Regions from separate parts of the Homo sapiens genome. Here regions 2 and 3 are each linked to region 1. The links come from fine-mapping of genetic effects on gene expression. A gene starts in region 1. Each other region holds a variant in brackets. All regions are shown on one strand. Distances are between the middles of the regions.

Region 1 (4,239 bases):
GGCCTCAGTTTCCTCATCTGTAAAATGGGGGGTCAACAACATGCCACTTTGCAAGGTGATGATGTAAGTGAAGAACAGGGCATCACTGGGCATTTGAGGCTACGGCACAGGCTGGTCTGAATCACCCTCTCCTCACCCAAAGCAGTGACAGCACCGGCCTCCTCAGCCTGGAACGCACGTTCTTCTGTCTGTCTCACACCCAGACCCTTACATACCATCTTCTTTAGCTTTGCAAACTACAGAGAATGGCCCTACAGCTCTTAATGTAGCTTCCTCAGCAGAAAGACTAAAATGTCTGTTGAGGGGGCAAAACAATTCACAAGGAGGTCGTCTAGCTTCTTCAGTTGTAAGTCCACTCCAAGCAAAAGGGAAGCCAGGGAAATGTGGTTAACCAGGGCAGGGAGACGTGGGGAGTGTGGGGGAAAGTCTGAGGTGGAGACACACAGGGACATGGGGGGTATGAGGTGGGGACAGGCAGGGAGATGGGGGTGCAAGGTGGAGACACGCAGGGACATGAGGGGGTGTGAGGTGGGGACAGGCAGGAAGATGGGAGGTGCAAGGCGGGGACAGGCAGGGACATAGGGGTGTGAGGTGGGGAAATGCAGGAAGATGGGGGGATGTGAGGTGGGGACTGGCAGGGATATGGGGGTGTGAGGTGGGGACAGGCAGAGACATGGGGGTGTGAGGTGGGGACAGGCAGGGACATAGGGGTATGGTGGGGATAGGCAGGGAGATGGGGGGTGCGAGGTGGGGACAGGAAGGGACATAAGGCTGTGAGGTGGAGACAGGCAGGGACATGGGGGGTGTGAGGTGGGGACAGGCAGGGAGATGGGGGGTGCGAGGTGGGGACAAGCAGGGACATGGGGAGTGCGAGGTGGGGACAGGCAGGGACGTGGGGCGTGCGAGGTGGGGACAGGCAGGGACATAAGGGTGTGAGGTGGAGACAGGCAGGGACATGGGGAGTCTGAGGTGGGGACAGGCAGGGAGATGGGGGGTGTGAGTTGGGGACAGGCAGGGAGATGGGGGGGTGCGAGGTGGGGATAAGCAGGGACATGGGGGTGCGAGGTGGGGACAGGCAGGGACATGGGGGTGGGAGGTGGGGACAGGCAGGGACATAGGGGGTGGGAGGTGGGCACATTCAGGGAGATGGGGGTGTGAGGTGGAGACAGGCAGGGACATAGGGGGAGCGAGGTGGGGACAGGCAGGGAGATGGAGGGTGCAAGGTGAAGACAGGCAGGGACATGGTGTGAGGTGGGGACAGGAAGGGACATGAGGGGTGCGAGTTGGGGATAGGCAGGGAGATGGGGGGGTGCGAGGTGGGGACACGCAGGGAGATGGGGGACGTGGGGATGGCGACAGGCTGGGAGAGGGAGAGGCCAGGCTGAGACCTCCCCGCGCGGTGCCAGCCAGTCCAGGCAGATCCAGGACTCAGCCAGGCCTGATACCCAGATAAGCCCTTCCTCCCAGAGGAGATAAGGGAGCGACGCGGCCGGCCGACAGGTGAACTAGAGCTGGCGAGTTAGTCGGCGCCGCCCCCTCCCGCGAGCCCGGCCTCGGGGGAGTACCGCCCACCCCGCCCCGCGCTCGCTCCGCCCCGCGCTCGCTCCGCCCCTTCGCGCTCCCGCCGCTCCTCCACGCTCGTGCCGCTCCCCCCCCGCGCTCCCAGTTGACGCTCTGGGCCGCCACCTCCGCGGACCCTGAGCGCAAGAGCCAAGCCGCCAGCGCTGCGATGTGGGCCACGCTGCCGCTGCTCTGCGCCGGGGCCTGGCTCCTGGGAGTCCCCGTCTGCGGTGCCGCCGAACTGTGCGTGAACTCCTTAGGTACGCAGAGGGCGCGCCGCCCGAGAGGGTGCTAGCAGGCCCTAGAGTGGACGCTGGGAGAACTTGGCCAGGGGCGCACTGGGCTCCGGAGGAACGGGGCAGAGCTTTCCCCGGTGAGAGGCCAGGAACTCTGCGTGCTGGCACGGGGAGGGGTAAACTGCATTATAGGCGGGGGTTCTCGGAGGGTGGGCGGCTTGTAGGACCAGAGGAGCAGATGGGCTGAGTGTCCAGGGTCCCACCTAGCCAGGTGGCTCTCCAGCCTAGAATACCAAAGGAGCCCGCAGCTCCTTCCGCCTTCCTCAACTGGGGACACAGAGTGTCACACAGAGGACTCTGATCTGTCCCTGCCAGAGGTGAGCAAGGACGTCCCAGCCTTCTCTAGCAGCTTCCCCCGGGACTTGGCACACAGGGGATCCCCGTAGTGTCTTGGGAGTCCCATCTGTAGAGTAGGTTGGACGGGCTGTTTGGAACAGTGAATCCCTGTGCAACGGCACCAGGGAAAGCACTCAGACCAACAGCGCTTTTAACAGCACCCCAGGGCCCATGGCGTCAGGTGGAGCCCCAGGACTCCTCTTGTTGGCCAGATTGGCTGCGACTGGTCCAGCTTCGTGCTGCCCTTGCATCCTGTCTACTGCCCGGGCTCAGGCACCTCCCCTGGCTGAAGGCAAGGAGCCTGCTCTTCCCTACTGCCTCCCTCCTTTCCTACTGTCCCTGGTCCCAGCCTCAGCCCACAGGCTCTGAACTTAAAGACCACCTGCCCCCTTCACCGAGAAAAGTAGCCAAGAAACAACCCAAGGAGCCAAGAACCTAGGGAGGGGGGGTGCCCTGAGCTCTGGAGGAACGGGACAGGGCTTTCCCCCAGCTAGAGGCTCAGGGGATGGGACAGAGATCACTGAGGCTGAATCTGGGCCAGAGGGTTGCCTCATTCCTTCCCACCTATTTATTTAAAAAGCTCCCCAGCCTTGCAAACCTCAGTGGGCGCCCAGCTCCAGGTCAGTTCCCGCCTAAGGAAAACCTAGCTGCCGCAAGCGAGGGCTGCCTGGAGAAGGCTGGCGCTGAGAGGCTGTCTGAATTCCAGAGCAGGGCTTGGCAAACTTTTTCTGTGAAAGACCAGACGGTAAATAACTTAGGCTTTATGGTGGTCTCTGTAGCAACTACTAACTCTGCCATGGTAGTGTGATAGCAACCATAGATTGTATGTAAGTGAGTCAGTGTAACTGGGTTCTAATAAATGATTTTTATGGCCACTGAAATTTCAGTTTCAAGGGATTTTTGGGTGCTACGAAATATGTTTCTTCTAACCATTTAAAATTGTAAGAAACCGTTTGTAGCCCAGGAGCTGTACTAAAACAGGAGTCAGGGACCGGCTGCGGTGGCTCACACCTGTAATCTCAGCAATTTGGGAGACCGAGGCAGTCGGATCACTTTAGGTCAGGAGTTCGAGAGCAGCCTGGCCAACATGGTGAAACCCTGTCTCTACTAAAAATACAAAAATTAGCTGGGTGTGGTAGCCAGGTGCCTGTAATCCCAGGTACTCAGGAGGCTGGGGCAGGAGAATCGCTTGAAACTGAGAGGTGGCGATCACTCCAGCCTGGGTGACAGAGTAAGACTCCATCTAAAACAAACAAACAAACAAACAGGGGAATACTGTACTTTCCTGAAACCTGCTGTAAATCCAGGCAAGGTATTATGGCACTTTTAAAGTCCTGACTAGATTGGAATGGATCTATTTTAGGGTAAGGCACGGTTCACCAGCAGATTATTCTGGCCCCAGAATAATCTCTCCAGAGGCAAACTGGTAGTCAATTGTCCTAAACTCAAACCCTGCCTCCAACTCTTGTCCTGAGTTGAGGTCTGTCTTCCTCTAAAGCCCTCAGCTGCAGCAGGGCCCTTAATCAAGATCTGGAATCCCCTGAAACCCTAAAGGGAGCCATGTTGAGGAAATGTGCATTTTCCCCAGGGAAAACGGCCATAGATTGGTCTCTGGAACAGGTTCGAGACCCAAAAACGGAGATCTAAATGCTGTGTGGTAGTGATCTTCACACTGGAGGTATGGATCCTTGGGGAAACAGGAAGATATTTCAAGTGATGCCGGCAGAGAGTGTTCTGGAAATCCATTTACAGACCTTTTATTTCCAAGTGTCCTCTTTGCTAAAACTGGGAGAGAGCCCCTGAAGGCAAGGGGGAACCTCTTTCCTCTCATTCAATCTGAACCTGAACCCATGGGTATAAAAACAATAGGGACAGCAAACAAAAAGACAAAACGGTAATAAATCGTTCATATCTGGCATTCTCAATTCCTCAAGGAAACTGAATTGAAGAGGAGAGGACTTCATGGGGATATCAACTGATGAGGTCTTAAAAATAATGTTGAGTGAGGCCAGGCGTGGGGGCTCACGCCTGTGATCCCAGCACTTTG
Region 2 (4,239 bases), 34 kb after region 1:
GTTATGAAATGCTTTTTTCTTTACAAAGTAAACATGCATATTGACTCTTATGGGTACACATATATTCTTCATTACAGAAACTCACTGAACTAATGAATGAAATCAGCAATCTTACTCTTAACTTCCTGTTACAACACAACTCCTGAGGTTTTTCCCCTAGCAACATCAAGAAATGCCAAGCTCATCTCAAAAGTTAAGCTGAATGGAAGGTTTACCTGGTTCCCACCAGCAGTCACTTAATTCAGTTACGGGTTTTGAACTCAGGATGAAATATAAACTTTTTTAAACAGACAATCATTATACATGTTTATGGGGTACAATGTGATGTTTCGATATATGTACGCATTGCAGAAAGATTAATCAAACTTACATATCCAACACCTCACCTACTTACCCTTTTTTGTGGTGAAAATGTTTAAAATCTAGTCTTCTGGCTATTTTGAAATGTATGGTCACCATACTGTGCAACAGATCTCTAAAATGTCTGAAACCAACATCTTTGACCAATATCTCCCTTTCCCTATATCTCCCCCTCCGACCTCTGCTAATCAACATTCTACTCTCTGCTTCTATGAGTTCAACTTTTTAAAATTCCACGTATAAGTGAAGATCATGCGGTACTTGTTTTCTGTGTCTGGCTTATTTCACTTAGCATAAAATCCTTCAGGTTCATCCCTGTTATCACAATGGCAGGATTTCCTTTTTAAAGGTTGTATAGCATTCCACTGTGTATATATACATTTTCTTTAGTAATTGTTCCTAGCATCCAAACAGCACTCAGAGTTTAGGTAAACACAAGAGTTTCAGCATGAGGCTGTATTAGCCTGGACTGACTTGGAGAGCGGGGCCAAAGGCAACTTGCATGAAGGACCACAGGGCCTCCTGGGAAACAGCAACCATGGGGGACAGAGGAGGAAGCATCCCACCAGCTGGTTAAGAATACTGAATCAGGGCTGCAGCCCTTGTGGTGACCCCGCCCAAGGGCACTCCTGGCCTGCCAAGCCCAAAGCCCCTGCGCCAGAAACCTAAGGAGAAGATGGTAAAACTGACAGAGTAGGCCAGGTACGGTGACTCACGCCTGTAATCCCAGCACTTTGCGAGGCCGAGGTGGGCAGATCACAAGGTCAGGAGTTCAAGACCAGCCTGAACAACATGGTGAAACCCCATCTCTACAAAAATACAAAAATTAGCCAGGCATGATGACGGGTACCAGTAATCCCAGCTACTCAGGAGGCTGAGACGAGAGAATTGCTTGAACCAGGGAGGCGGAGGTTGCAGTGAGCTGAGATTGCACCACTGCACTCCAGCCTGGGTGACAGAGTGAGACTCCGTCTCAAAAAAGAAAACTGACAGAGCAATTTCCCCTATGCTCCTGAGGGACTCTGAGAGCCTACAGAGATGCTGGTCTTTTGACTTCTATCAAAGGGCAAGAGAGAAGCCCTTCCTTCTTGCGAGTGAAGCAGGTTAATCAGCTCAGCTCAAACACTGGTGTTTTCTTGGTTTAACAGACACTTTTTATTGGCCAGGCACTGCACTAAGAAATATACAGCACACTAACTCCCCACAGCAACCCTGTGAGGTAGATACTATCATGATCCCCACTTTCACATGAGGAAGCCGAGGCACAGATTGGTTAAGCAACTTGCCCCAAACCACAAAATTGCTTAGTGGCAGAATCAGGGTTTATACCCGAGCCCTCCAGCTCCAGAGT[A/G]TCTGTTCTCAGCCTCCCTCTCTGCTGCCTCTCCAAAGAGGATGCAGAGTCCTTAGGATTCTTAAAAAGTCTGAAAGTGATTCAAAATGACTATGCTGTGAGGAGACCTGGCCCTGCCCGCCAGGCCCAGGGTGGTAACTGAGCTCCATCTACGTAACTCCATCTACGGCACTGCCCCATCTAAGGCCTGGTGGGTTCCCTCCTCCTGTCCACCTTGGTAAACAAGTCCTTTATCAAGCTCCCCTCACAGTACCCAGTAGACTGTGTTCTTTCTCAGGGAGCCTAGCCGATACAAGGGAGTAGCTGAAAGGTAATATTATGGGATGCTTTTTAAAAAATAGTTCTTGGCATATTTTTAAAACATTTTAAGGGAATTATGCAAATGTAGAGTGATAGAGTAAGTCTAGGCTAGAGACAGAGAACAGATTTTCATTATTATGGGAAAAATCATGTGACCAACTTCCCGTGGTTATGTGAATGTAAAGTCAGTGTGTGTTGTTCTAGGGGAATGCTATACACAAGATCTCCGGTTTGCTGTTTGTAGTTCAGCAAAGACGATCTCTCTCGGGATTCCAGGGTGCAAGGTGGACCAATTTGCACAGGAACCCAGAGATGAAATTGGGGACAGCCATTCGGGTGGTCTGGGATGCGCTGAAGCAGGCTCACGGCAGGAAAAGATCTTAAGGGGACTCCCTCAGAAGGGAGGGGAGGAGAGGAGGCTGGCCCCAGTTCAGGATCTAAAATTTCACAGAGGCCAGGTTCGCACAGTGGGTAGGCTGAGTGAAGCTGCTGCAGGATTGGAAACTCTGGTGGGTGTCCTACTGTGAGGGATGATGGCTGAACATGAGGTGGCCAAGAGAGGAGCAGCTTTAGGGCACTGGAGTAGGATGCCACCTCGGCCCTGTGAAGGTGGGCGGAATGGGCTGAGCCCATGGATTGTGGGGAAACCCTTACAACAGCGACACCTTATGGCCACTATGGTAACATAATGCGCACATCTAATTTTCTGGTCTCCCAGTATGGCTTCAGAAAGACTGGAATTCTTGGATAATGAAGAGAAGGGTGATCAAGGGGGAAGGATGAGATTCTCTGCCTATGGAAGTAAAGGCTTGCACAATCCTCTGGAAAAGTAAAAGTGCAAGAATGTGTCCCAAGTGGACACAGGTTGTACCAGGAACCTCCAGGGTCCCAGATCAGTCCACCCAGAGTGAGTCCTTGTGTCTCCGGCTCTGGGGTCAGAAAGGGCAGGTTGACTTAGTTCCTGAAGGAAACCATGTAGCCCTCACATATGTCACAAGCATAGAGGAAACGTGCTACCTTTATTGCTCAGGTTCACCAGGGAGCTTTGCAATGCTGAGACCATTCCTAGGCCCAGGACAATCTGCCATTAGCTCTGCCCATGGTAACTTTATGCCACAGAGCACCAGGTCAAGGACATACCAAACTTCCCTCTTCACACACAAACACACAAACACGCACACACTCAGAGGTTTGTCTAAACTTAATCACCCCTAGACACACCACCAGCAACCACCCAAACCCCTCCCCAGGACTGGAAGCATATCCCAGGCTCAGCTGCCCTTCTCTCTCTCCCCCAAGGCTGCATCACAAACGCACATGCTTCTGTTCTTCTGAAACCAACCATTCATCTCACATTTCTTCTTCCTCATTTTCAATTCTGATTTTCTTAATTGTTTCCAATATTCTAAATGTCAAGAAATAAATAAGTGTAAAGACTACTGCATGGTGGCTTGCACCTGTAGTGCCAGCTACTCAGGAGGCTGAGGCAGGAGAATGGTGTGAACCCAGGAGGCAGAGCTTGCAGTGAGCCGAGATTGCACCACTGCACTCCAGCCTGGGCGACAGAGTGAGACTCTGTCCCAAAAAAAAAAAAAAAAAAAAACCAGTACTTTCAACCACAGCCCTTAACTAGCCTGGCAGCTTCCATTTCTTATCTCTTTGAACCCTCACTATTGGAGTCCTGAGATACCATGTAATTTTGGAGTCCTGAGATACCAGCCTGAGGCTGGCAAGTCACAGTATGAGATGTGCAAACCATGCAGAGAAGCCCTCAGTGGTTGAGATGCTGTGTCGAGGAAAGAGGGGCCAAGGAACACAGAGGTACGAGATACATGAGTGAAGAAGCCATCTTGGAAGCAGATCCTCCACAATTTCAGCCACGGCAGCTAACGCCAAATGGATCAAAGATGAACTGCCCAACCAAGCCTATCCTGAATTCATGATTCAGAAAGGTATGAGCAAAACAAAATGGTTGTTTTAAGCTATAAAGTTCTGGGACAGTTTGTTAGCGCAGCAAAAGACAGCCAGAAATCAAATCTCATGTAAAGCTTTTCAAAAAAATCAAAACAATATAACCACAATTGTGTTTTAAAATAAAATGGTAATCCCAGCACTTTGGGAGGCGAAGGCAGGCGGATCACTTGAGGTCAGGAGTTCAAGACCAGCCTGGCCAACATGGTGAAACCCCGTCTCTACTAAAAATACAAAAAAATTAGCTGGGTTATGGT
Region 3 (4,239 bases), 27 kb after region 1:
AATTAATATTTGCAGACAGCATGATAATGTGGCTAAAAACATTCAGGAGAATCAACAAAACTTAGAACTAATGAAAGAGTTCTGAAAGTGGCTGGATACCAGAAAAAAAAATCAAAAACTCAGAAAAAATACACTATTTTTTGTTACTATTGCAACTTTACTATTGCAACAAAACCAGCAGCTAGGAATAACCACCAAAAAGTCTTATATGAAGAAAATTACTAAATTAATAACACTATAAAGGAAGACTTAGATAAATGGAGAGCCACCATATTCTTTTGTTGTTGTTGTTGAGACAGAGTCTCACACTGTTGCCCGGGCTGGAGTGCAATGGCATGATCTTGGCTCACTGCAACCTCCGCCTCCCGGGTTCACGTGATTCTCCTGCCTCAGCCACCCGAGTAGCTGGGATTACAGGTGCCCACCACCACACCTGGCTAGTGTTTTGTATTTTTAGTAGAGACGAGGTTTCACTATGTTGGCAGATTGGTCTCAAACTCCTGACCTCATGATCCACCTGCCTCGACCTCCCAAGGTGCTGGGATGACATGCATGAGCCACCATGCCCGGCCGAGGCACACCATATTCTTGAATGGAAAGATTAGCATAAATAAGTTGATTATTGCCAGAAATAAAAGTACAGATGGTATATTTCCAACTAAAATCCCAATAAAATTCTGTTATCCTTTTTATCTGGGGGAAAAAAGGCCAAGGTAGTTTTATAAATGAGCAATGAGGGTGGATTTTTTTCACATATTAAAATTTACAAAATGTTAACCCTTAAAACAGTGTGCCAATTAAGAATAGATTACTCACTCAGGTCTAGGAAGTAAGAATTCGATACATCCGTCACAGACGAGTCCATTTTCACCATTCAATTAAAGGTGCTAGAAGCTGGGTGCGGTGGCTCACGCCTGTAATCCCAGCACTTTGGGAGGCTAAGGCAGATGGATCACGAGGTCAGGAGTTCAAGACCAGCCTGGCCAACATAGTGAAATCCTGTCTCTACTAGAAATACAAAAATTAGCCGGGCATGGTGGCGGATGCCTATAATCCCAGCTACTCGAGAGGCTGAGGCAGGAGAATCACTTGAACCCGGCAGGCAGAGGTTGCAGTGAGTGGAGATCGCACCCCTGCACTCCAACCTGGGTGACAGAGCGAGACTCCGTCTCAAAAAAAAAATAGTGCTAGAAATTGAACAGTAGGTTGGAAAAACAATGTAACCTAAATCCTCACCCAGCTCTATATTGTTTTTAAAGTGAACATTTTCTTTTCTAACGGGTTTAGATATAGAATGACTGTGGAGACAGAGGAGAATTCTTGCACACCCACACCCAGATCTCTCTGCGATGAATGTAGTAGTTTGATACAAATGTCACAATTAATGATCCAATATAGAACATTATTAACCACATTCCAATTAAATACTCATTTAAAGGGAGGGTCCTGGGTGAGGTTCCAAAGAAATTCAAATTACCACAAAAATCAAATAACTGTTTTCAAAATTAGCCTCCCCTGAGGGATTTAGGTGCTCCGCAGGGATTGTGGGCTTGGGCTGGAACACAGACCTGAGACTTTGAAGCAGAGTTCTCCTTTCCATAAGAGCCCCGAATGTCTCAAACCCAGACAATGATGAGAGTCTTTTATTATAAAAAGGCCTGCAGGCCTGGTGTGGTGGCTCACGGCTTATAATCCCAGCACTTTGGGAGGCCAAGGTGGGCAGATCACCTGAGGTCAGGAGTTCGAGACCAGCATGGTGAAACCCTGTCTCTACTAAAAACACAAAAAAATTACCTTGGCGTGGTGGCACGCACCTGTAGTCCCAGCTACTTGGGAGGCTGAGGCAGGAGAATCGCTTGAACCCGGGAGGCAGAGGTTGCAGTGAGCCGAGATCGTGCCACTGCACTCCAGCCTGGCAAGAGAGCGAGACTCCATCTCAAAAAAAAGAGGGGGAGGGGGAGGGGGAGGGGGCGGGGGGGGGACTTTCAGGGGCCAATTCCCTCCTTTTCAGCCATTTACCAAACACCTGCAGAGTATCCACTGTGTGCAGTCCTCTCCTGTGCCAGGCACCAGGGAGCACACAGGATGTTTATAACATCCAGTGTTGGCAGGACTGTTGTGAAACAAGCAGCATGGCCTGTGCCTTGGTGCTGTTTGGATTTAAAGAGATCGGCAGACATGGCTACATCCAACTGAGATAAGTAAATTTCAAATGCACTTGAACCCTAAGGATGCTACAGAGCCTGGTACACAGCAGGTACTGCCTAATTGATCTCAGTCATCACCCCTGCCCCTACTCCATGACAGGCCCCGTGCGGACCTCTAGCAATCTCAGGCCCATGGACTATGTCTTTAACACTAAGGTGCTCCTGCACTTA[G/A]GGAAAAGATAGCAGAGTTTTAAAAAAACAAAAAACAGTTAAAGTCCAAAGGTTAAAAACAAAGACATCACAAGAAAAGAAAACTACAGAGCAATGTTCCTTATCAATACAGATGTGAAAATCCTCAATAAAATACTAGCAGACCAAATCCGGCAATATATAAAAAGAATTATATACCATCTCTACTAAAAATACAAAAGTTATTTACCATCTCTACTAAAAATACAAAAATTAGCTAGCCGTGGTGGTGTGCACCTGTAATCCCAGCTGCTCCAGAGGCTGAGGCAGGAGAACTGCTTGAACCCGGGAGGTGGAGGCTGCAGTGAGCCAAGATTGTGCCACTGCACTCCAGCCTGGGTAAAAAAAAAAAAAAAAAAAAAAAAAAGTATTACTATATGAACCCAGTAATTCCACTGCTAAGAGAATTGAAAACATGTACACACAGAAACTTGTACATGAATATTCCTAACAACATTATATATAATTGCCAAAATGGGGAAACAACCCAGATGTCTGTCAACTGACAGATAAAATATGATACATCCATACAAAGAAACATCCAGCCTAAGAAGGAAGTGCTGACACACACTACACCATGGATGAACGTTGGAAACATCAGGCCAAGTGAAAGAAGCCAGACGCAAAAGACTACACATTGTGTAATTCTGTCTATATGAGCCAGGCACAGTGGGCTCACACCTGTAATCACAGCACTTTTGGAGGCCAAGACAGGAGAAGTTCTTGAGGCCAGGAGTTGAAGACCGTCCTGGGCAACATGGCAAAACTTCATCTCTACAAAAAAATACTAAACAAACAAAAAATTAGCCGGGCATGATAGCAGAGCCTGTAGTCCCAGCTACTCAGGAGACTGAGAGGTGGGAGGATCACTTGAGCCCAGGAGGTCAAGGCTCCAGTGAGCCATGATTGCATCATTGCACTTCAGCCTGAGTGAAGAGCAATACTGTCTCAAAAAAAAGAAAAGAAAAGAAAGAAAAAAAAAAAGGCCAGGCAAGGTGGCTCACGCCTGTAATCCCAGCACTTTGGGAGGCCGAGGTGGGTGGATCACAAGGTCAGGAGATCGAGACCATCCTAACACGGTGAAACCCCATCTCTACTAAAAAATACAAAAAAATTAGCCGGGCACGGTGGCAGGCGCCTGTAGTCCCAGCTACTCCGGAGGCTGAGGCAGGAGAATGGCAGGAACCCGGGAGGCGGAGTTTGCAGTGAGCCGAGATCACGCCACTGCACTCCAGCCTGGGGACAGAGCAAGACTCCATCTCAAAAAAAAATAAAATAAAATAAAAATAAAAAAAAGAAAACGAAAAAAAGCAGAAGCCTGTGTACTCAAGACTTTAAAATTTCAAGACATGTTAATTGTGGGGGCTCAGGGCATGTCCCTACCATGGTCATTATTAGTGTGAGTGAACTAAGCATCTCCTCCCAAAACCATAGTGTCCGTGACAGGAAGCCCAGCTCCTGCCAGAATATCCAGTGGAAAGAATGCTAATGGAACACAACTTTTTGGAAGCAGACACACCTGGATTCCAATCTCAGTTCTCCCTTGAATTTTCTGTGTGACCTTGGCGGTAGTGGGGGTGTTAGTTACCCTCTCTGAGCCTCCATTTCATTGTCTACAAATTGATATAATCATATTTTCTTCGTGATTTTTAAAAGTTTTTTAATTTTTGTAGAGATGGGGTTTCACTATGTTGCCCAGGCTGGTCTCAAGCTCCTGGACTCAAGCGATCATACCGCCTCAGCCTCCCAAAGTGCTGGGATCACAGGCATTGAGCCACCGCGCTTGGCCGCCTTCACGATTTTGTGGACAGAATTGAGATGATTTATGGAAATACTCAGCGTC

The links. PIP is the estimated chance that this variant, and not a neighbour inherited with it, causes the effect. A credible set is the group of variants that fine-mapping cannot tell apart.
Region 2: its variant is the best candidate, but not a certain one, in a credible set for the expression of CTSH in skeletal muscle (GTEx, PIP 0.51).
Region 3: its variant is the best candidate, but not a certain one, in a credible set for the expression of CTSH in fibroblasts (GTEx, PIP 0.88).

Annotation. Positions count from the first base shown.
Region 1 is chr15:78,942,472-78,946,710 of GRCh38, reverse strand. CTSH (cathepsin H) reads left to right here and starts at 1,665. Exons shown (of 12, transcript NM_004390.5): 1 at 1,665-1,820. The coding sequence starts at 1,730. RefSeq lists silencers at 1,463-1,812, 2,250-2,544 and enhancers at 1,395-1,933, 1,934-2,472, 2,933-2,982, 3,413-3,462.
Region 2 is chr15:78,908,408-78,912,646 of GRCh38, reverse strand. No RefSeq gene overlaps it. Among named protein-coding and RNA genes, the nearest start is that of CTSH, 35 kb to the left of the region's middle. The variant A/G (reference allele first, on the strand shown) is at 1,712.
Region 3 is chr15:78,915,937-78,920,175 of GRCh38, reverse strand. No RefSeq gene overlaps it. Among named protein-coding and RNA genes, the nearest start is that of CTSH, 27 kb to the left of the region's middle. The variant G/A (reference allele first, on the strand shown) is at 2,379.